Linked DNA regions of Homo sapiens. The protein of the gene in region 1 purifies or fractionates together with the protein of each later gene. This does not show direct contact. Each region holds a gene or a part of one and is shown in the gene's direction. Other genes may lie near its edges.

The links. The genes of interacting proteins can lie anywhere in the genome.
Region 2: the proteins of BANF2 (region 1) and STK39 purify together in Homo sapiens (affinity purification with mass spectrometry; one large-scale study listed by BioGRID and IntAct). This does not show direct contact.

Annotation. Positions count from the first base shown.
Region 1 is NC_000020.11:17,702,780-17,706,853, forward strand, and holds part of BANF2 (barrier-to-autointegration factor-like protein), read left to right. Parts: intron 1-4,074. UniProt on the Homo sapiens protein: May play a role in BANF1 regulation and influence tissue-specific roles of BANF1.
Region 2 is NC_000002.12:168,237,186-168,241,259, reverse strand, and holds part of STK39 (STE20/SPS1-related proline-alanine-rich protein kinase), read left to right. Parts: intron 1-4,074. UniProt on the Homo sapiens protein: Effector serine/threonine-protein kinase component of the WNK-SPAK/OSR1 kinase cascade, which is involved in various processes, such as ion transport, response to hypertonic stress and blood pressure.

The DNA of each region.
Region 1 (4,074 bases):
CTATAGCCATCTCAGCCAACAGAACCGTCACGGGAATATTCTGTCTCTGTGTTGTCTCATATGATAGCCACTAGGCACACAGGGCCACTGGGCACTTGGGATGTGGCCAGTGGGACTGAGGAGCTGCGCTTGTTGTTTAAATGGAAGCTTAGATTACATAGCCATCGGTGGCTGGTGGCGGTGTGCTAGACGCTGCTGCTCTGGGCCCTGCTGACTTTTGTGACTTCATCTCTGATCTCATTCCCCTCTCCTGGCTTTCCCTTTCCCTCTGCCTTCACTCCCAGACCTCCTGTGCTTTTTGATTTTTGCATTTGCTGTTCTCTCTGCCGGCATCACTTTTTCCTCTGATCATTTTATGGTTTGCCCCTGTTCAACAGGAGGGCCTCAGATCAAGTGTGTGTCTTCAGAAAGATCTTCCCTATTCTACCTAATTGTGTCCCCAGCCCCATTCCAATTGCTCCTTATCTCTCTGAAGTTACGTTTGTGTGTTTTCTTGTCTACTGCCCTATCCCTGGATAAAAATCCCAGTTTCACCAGAGCAGGGATGCAGTCTGCCCTCTCCCACTCCATCTCTGTGCCTGGAACAGCGCCTGAGAGGCAGAAAGTGCTCAGTATGGTGCTTACAGTGTGTGAACATTCTGCAGGACAGCCCCCTCCTTCAGTGAGGAGGAAAGGCGGTCATGGCCCCAGTAACTTCTGCTGTGTGACAAAATAACATGAGCACAGCGGCCTAGAACAGCAAAGATTCGTATTTCTTCCAATTCTCTGGGTCTGGAATGTGAGCAGGACTCAGTTCCACATTGTGTCACTGAGGGTCACTCAGCTGGGGGCTAGGCTGGACAGGGTGGCCCAAGAAGGCCTCACTCACACAGCTGGGACTTTTGGGCTCTCCAAGAAACATCTCTATGCGGTTTGTCTGGGTTTTCTTACAGCATGGAGGTCTCAGGGCAAGTAGGCTGACTTTTTTTTTTTTTTTTTTTTTGACAGTGTCTTGCTCTGTTGCCCAGGCTGGAGTGCAGTGGTGTGATCTTGGCTCACTGCAACCTCCGCCTCCCAATCCTGGGTTCAAGCGATTCTCCTGCCTCAGCCTCCTGAGTAGCTGGGATTGCAGGTGCCTGCCACAATGCCCAGCTAATTTTTGTGTTTTTAGTAGAGATGGGATTTCACCATGTTGGCCAGGCTGATCTCAAACTCCTGACCTCAGGCCTCTGCCTCGGCCTCACAAAGTGCTGGGATTACAGGTGTGAACCACTGTCCCCAGCTGGCTTCTGAGAGAGGAAGCAGAGGCTGCCAGGCCCAGAACTGGCAGCACCATTTTTATCACCTTCTACCGGGCTAACTAAGCCATAGGGCGAGAGCCCAGATAAAAGGGGAGGGGAAACTGTCCACTTCCTGGTGGGTGGGCAGGATGTTCATACCAGCAGGAAGGGGTCTATGGACACGCTACACAGTCACTTCAACAGTGCTGTGGTAGTGCTTCTCAACTTTGATCATGCACATGGGCCATCTGGGGTCTAGTTAAGATGCAGATTTAGTAGGTCTGGAGTGGAGCCTGAGATTCTGCATTCCTAACAAACTCCAAGAGACGTCAAAGCTGCAGGCCCACAGGCTGCACGTGGAGTAGCAAGGCTGTATTAGAATGCATCCTATCAGGACTGAGCCTATGCTTAGGTTTGACATTGCAGGGCCCTCAATTCCACTTCTAGAGTGGACAGCACTTCTTTGGGTTAAGCATTACCCACTGTTGCTGAGGTCTACATGATCGGTCCCTTCTTCCCAGGCATCTGGGCTTGTGCCCACATAGGGTAACTGTCCCATCCTACCTCCCAAGCACTTCTCATGCATTGCTTTATCAGCCTTTAAGGCCTCTTCCTTCTTTAACATTTAATTATCATTGTGTCCCTTGTAAAATTGGTGGAATGGGTCTCTTTCAGTTAGGATTAGAAACTAAACTCAAACTAGTTAAAAGGCAAAGGATTGATTGGAGCACATATGGCTTCAGGACTGGCTGTATCTAGGCCCTCAAATGATGTTGTCAAGAAACTACTTGTCACCATCTCCAGTTCTGCATTGCCAGGATCGCTCTGACAGGATCCCCCACAAGTGGAAGGAGAGACGAACACTCACTTAGCAACCCCAGCAAGAAGGGGGCACCACTTCTTGCCTAATCTTTCTGGCAAAAGTGCCAGGATTCTGTCTGGCTGGCCCAGCTGAGGTCGCGTGTCCACAATGATGCAGTCACTGTGGCCAGGAGGATGTGTTACCTCATTGGCCAGGCCTGGTCATGTGTGTTGTTACCTCACTGGCCAGGCCTGGTCATGTGTGTTGTTACCTCACTGGCCAGGCCTGGTCATGTGTGTTGTTACCTCATTGGCGAGGCCTGGTCATGTGTGTCCCTGGAGCCAAGTGGGAGACTGGCCCCACCCAAGCCACATTGGATGAAAGCAGGAAGAGGTGATTCTCCATGTAAAATTGGAGAGAAGGGAGAGCAGTTAGAAAGCTAAAAAATTGTCCCAATTGATCATGAGAACAGGTGTTGAAGTCCTTGTGTGATGGCTGAGAAAACAGAGGGCGGGAGCCTCATAAATTCCAGAGGGCCCACAGCTAACCAGGCCTCCCAATCCCTAGCACAGACTCAGGGGCTGTCGAATTAAAGATCTTTAGCACCAGAAGAATCTTGAAAATTAGCCAACGCATGTTCCACAGAACACTGGTTCAAGGGAAGCTAACTGATGTTACTTAAAAGGCTGTCTGGTCTAGGAAAGGTAAAAGATAATGGGCTAGGCCAGGTCAGTAGTTCCCTAGCTTTACAGGACTTTTCAAAGCCGTAAATAGGCTGGTGTACATTGTGAATCCCTGAGAATGGGGGGAGGCCTAGGGACTATTGTTTGGAAAATTAGTAACCTAACTCTATTCCTCCCCATTTTATAGATGAAGCAACTAAGGCCAAGAAGGGAAAGTGATTTGGGCAAGGTTATGCAACTAGTTCATGCTGGGATTACCCCAGATGCTATGTTGAGGCATACTTCATGCTGTGCAGAAGCATCTCTTTGTACCTCAGGGCAGCCCTGTCCTCCTGGTTGTGTTCCTGCTGTCTGGAGTCTGTGTGTTTTCCTTTCTCCCACATATCCCTGCATAAGGGTTTGTGGGCTTCTATGGCACTGCTCCTGTGAGGGCCCATGGGCACCCAAAGTGCCCAACCCCTGCCTGGGACATGCCCCTCACTGCTGCATGCCTGAGGGAACTATTGAGAGGTGCAGAAAACCACATGGGTCTGTACTTAGGAAAACGCAGCCACCCAACTGGCAAGGTGACGGCATAGATGAGGTTGAAGGGGCTTGAAGGTTGGCCAAATCCGGAGAGTCAGCACAGACAGACACCAAGTGTGCCAGGCTGAAGGGTGAAGGTTCCTAGAGCCAAGTACACACTTTAAATCCAGGGAGAGATTGTGGGTCAGGGCTGGGGTGTGCTGACGTGAGGGTGATTGTTATAGCAACATTACCTTTGAGACCCTCATTCACCTGGGCACTTCATATGAGCTCATTCTAAGCCACTCAGTGACCCGGCTTGGGGATTATCATGACCCATATAGATCAAGAAGAAAAAAGTAGCTGTTGGTTAGTTGGCTGAACTCACAGGTATGAGCTTAACACGAAGGATTCAAGCTCTGGCTCTTCTCTTCGCCAAGTATATGATCTTGGGCATGTTACTAAACTGTCTAAGCCCCCATTTCCTCATCTGGCAAATGGGGCTCAGATATGTTCCTACATCATAGCTTTGTCGTGAGGATTAAATAAGATGTCTGTGAATTAGCAAGACACCTAGCCCATCCGTAGTAGGGGATCCTTAAGTGATGGCAGGAATGGAGAGGTAGGAACAGATCCACCAAGTAAAGGGTAAAGCCAAGATCAAACACAAATCCAGCCAGGTGTGGCTCCTTCTGCCTTTTCACTGCCACTAAGAGAGGGGTAGCATTCAATGAGCAGATGGCAGTGGCTCAGAGTGCAGATCAGTGCAAAGGTCTTTCTCGTCTTCTCTGCAAAGAAGGAGGGATGGCATATGTGTATCTTTGGT
Region 2 (4,074 bases), on another chromosome or scaffold:
CCTTCATTTTCAGATAAAGTCATCACCATTGCTTCCCTGTCTCCTTCTTTCCCTCTTTGCTTTTCCCTCAGTTTATAAATATTCTCAAGCCTGTCTCTTATGTTTAAATGACAAAAGAGAACAAAACAAAACACTCTCCCTACTTCTTTCTCCTCTGGCTACTCGGTTATCTCGTTTCTTCCTTTCACTGCTAAATTGTTGGAAGGAACCTCCCATTCCCTCTCAGCCCACTGCAGTCTGGCTTCTGCCCTTTCCCTAAGAAACCCAAGTTACTCTCTGAAATCACTGTGACTCTTCTGTGGCCAGAGCCAGTGGACACTGCAGTCCTTTTCTCTGCTCTCTGCAGGGTTAGGTGCCATCTTTCATTCTCCTTTTGGAAAGGCATTTGCTTGAGCTTCCATGCCATGCCTTCCTTCTGGACTTCCTGTACTCCCTTGCCTGCCCCAGATCCACATCTCTGTCTGTCTGAAGCTTCAATTACCACATCAAATGCTGAGGGTCTTCCTGACTGTATACCAGTGTTTGGACTACCTTTTTAATGTCTTCGTTTGAATGTTTCACAGGAACTTCATACAGTTAAACTCATTGTCTCTCCACCCTGGCCTCAGTCCTAATCTTGTTTCTTCTATATTCATCATCTTTAGAGCCCTCAAGGGCAAAACCTGCTGGCCATCCTATACTTTCCTGTCTTTGTCCATCTCTCACATCTGTTTGGTCACCAAGTCCTAAATACTCCACCTCCTTGAGATCTTCTTTGATTTGACTCTGACTCTTCATGTCAGCCACCACTGGTTTAGTTCAGGCCCTTATCGATTCTTATTTGGATTATTGTAATAATTTCCTAACCAGGTTCCTTTTTTCCATTCTTGTTTCTGGCTGTAGTGTGCATTGCTACCAGAAAGATACTGCTATACCAAAATTCTTGATCACGTTGCTCCCAGGCTGAAATGCCTTTAGTAGCTCTCCCGTCACCCTCAAGACTTAATTTGAAGCACAGTGTTTAAGGTCTTTTGGGAATTGTCTCTTGCCTCCCTTTTCAGCCACATCTTGTAATTTCCAGTCTCAGGACAGACTCTCCAGCCAGTGGGAACCTTTTGCAGTTGCTGAAATGCCTCTTCTAGGCAAGATTTCCCTCTGCTTGGAACACCATTCCAAGACCCTTCCCTTCCATTTTTCATCTATGTAGCAAAGAGCTCTGTCTTTTCTTTTAAATATTGCCCTTATTGAAGTATAATATGCATGTGGAAAAGTGTACATATAAAAAATGTATATCTTGGTGCATGTTCATGAATTGAACACACCATGTAACCAGCACCCTGACTGGGCCTCTCTTCTCATACCCTGAACAAGTGATTTCTTGTCACACAAACAATCTCTGCCTCTAGAGCCCCCCTCCCCCCTTGCCCTTCAGGCTCTGTTGGGTCTTTCGCTCCCTGGCAGTTGTCACACTATCTGCAAATTGTATTTTCCTTGCCAGCCTGGCTCTAGACTGTTAAGTCTTCCTTGAGGACAGGGTCTCTCATCTCCCTACCCTGCATGTCATAATAGATATTTAATAAATGTTTTCTGGATGAAGTTCTGAGTTTTGGGGATAAATACTCCTTCCTCACCTTGTGGAGGAGGAACATTGCCTGACGTCTAAAAATTTGCCTCACTGGATCCTGAGGATTTGATCTTGCCCGTGGTTAATGATGGGGTTTATTTAGTTGCGTTTGGGCCAATCAGCTTAAAGGGCTCTGTAGAAATTAGCTCATTAATCCTCACAGATCAAGAGTAAGCACTTTGAGTGCGTCCACCTGCCTGTGTTGTGGAGGTAGGCAGGCAGAGGCCTGGCTCTCCTGAGGTCTTAGGACTGAGAGGTGGCCTTTCTGGCTGGATTAAAGGACCCAGAGCTCCCTGCCACAGTTCTGGCATCCGTAGACATTGTAGGGTGGAGTGGGGAAGTCCCACACTGCCCTTCAAAAGCTCTAGAGCTTTCTTTTCTTTTGTATATCAGTGATCTCTCTCTCTTGCTGTTCATGTATTTATATATAACACTCACCTTGAAGTTCTGTGGAGCCTCTTCCTGTGTAGGAATCAGGGCTGCTGGAGACGATCAGGGATGCAGGTGAAACACAGGAGCAGAATTGCAGAACAAGTGGCTTTCAAAGGTTGTTAGGATGGCAGGAGTTCTATTTTTATAACTTATAAGGGACTGACATGATAGGATGGCTGTGGTACCTGCTAAGACCATAGAACCGGGTCATTCTAATAGATGTTATAATTCCTTTACAGTGTACTTTTTGGGAAAGTTTTTTTTTCCTATTTAAATAAAATTCTCCATGTAATCATGTGAAGTCATACGTTTTCCTCTAGGATAGTTGTGTTTAGATTATACCAAAACAGCTCTTAGTTGAAGTGATTCAAGTGTTTCTTTTTTCCCTATCTGCCATCAATTGGCCAAGTTTTTGATACTAGACAAGAATTCAATATATTAATTAAAAAGTCATTTCAGACTTGGCTTAACTGAAAAGCAGAAGAGAAAAATCCTTTAGAGAATGGATTGGCATACTTTATTTCTAGAGTCGATTTAGATAAATACTTTGGAATCCGATGTGAGTAAATGATATGTTTCACATTTCTTCTCACTTGCCAAACAGTTATTTGAGAATAAACTCTGGCTTAGCTTTAAGAAACTTCTTGGACATTGAGGATTGAGATTAATTGACCTTTTAAACTGATTGTGTATTTTGATATATGGGAAAACATTTTAAGATAGAAATGGTAGAGACCTCTACATTCATATTATCCCTGACTTTATTTTCAAACTTCTTCCAGGTAAGTGGCATTTAGTATAACTCTCAGAAGCCTAGTATTGGGGGTGCTCATGTGATTCTTCCCTTAGGTAAAAAATATACATTTTATTGACATTTATGGGTTTAGGTTTCTAACTTTTAGTTACCACTGGAGCTATTTGTCAGAAAAAACTAGATGGAAAGTAGAGGTGGATGACTTTCTGCCCTGTGAATGATAGATCTTCATTCAGGGAGTATTTTGGAGCCAGTGACCTGTGACAGTTGTGAGACTTCTCATAATCATTCTGTGGATGGTTGGGGTCTTAGAAGAAGTAATGATTTTGTTTTGAACTGGTTGCATCAGTTTGAACCAGAGTTTGTACTAAGGGTATTCCAACTGCTTTATTTCCTACTCTGTTTAGTCTGGGGATTGAAAAAGGATTACATTTTGGGTAGGTTGGTGCCTATTGACCTATCCTGTGTAGCTTAGATTTTAATTTGAATCATCTGGTTCTCTTTCTTTCTCTCAGGCAATGTCACTATCTCTGTTTGTTTAATTATGGGGTGACTCAAGAAAGCAAAGGAAGAGGAGCAGCAGACGGGGTTTCCTGGGGAAGGAATGGCAGGTCATGGCTGGTTTTTATAAGTGAGTTCCTAAGTGAGAAGTGGTACAAGAATATAGAGAGAATTAGGAAATTTAATTTTAGAAGAGACCAAAGGAAAAAAAATCCATCCCAGCTGCTTTGTCTTGTAACTGAAAACTCTCTAATGGCCAAAGTTGAAGAAACTTGCCTATGGTCCCAAAGTCCTTAGAATCCCAGGCTCCAACCCTTCATGCTAAAAACTCTCAATAAATTAGGTATTGATGGGACGTATCTCAAAATAATAAGAGCTATCTATGACAGACCCACAGCCAATATCATACTGAATGGGCAAAAACTGGAAGCATTCCCTTTGAAAACTGGCACAAGACAGGGATGCACTCTCTCACCACTCCTATTCAACATAGTGTTGGAAGTTCTGGCCAGGGCAATCAGGCAGGAGAAGGAAATAAAGGGTATTCAGTTAGGAAAAGAGGAAGTCAAATTGTCCCTGTTTGCAGATGACATGACTGTGTATCTAGAAAACCCCATTGTCTCAGCCCAAAATCTCCTTAAGCTGATAGGCAACTTCAGCAAAGTCTCAGGATACAAAATCAATGTGCAAAAATCACAAGCATTCTTATACACCAATAACAGACAAACAGAGAGCCAAATCATGAGTGAACTCCATCCACAATTGCTTCAAAGAGAATAAAATA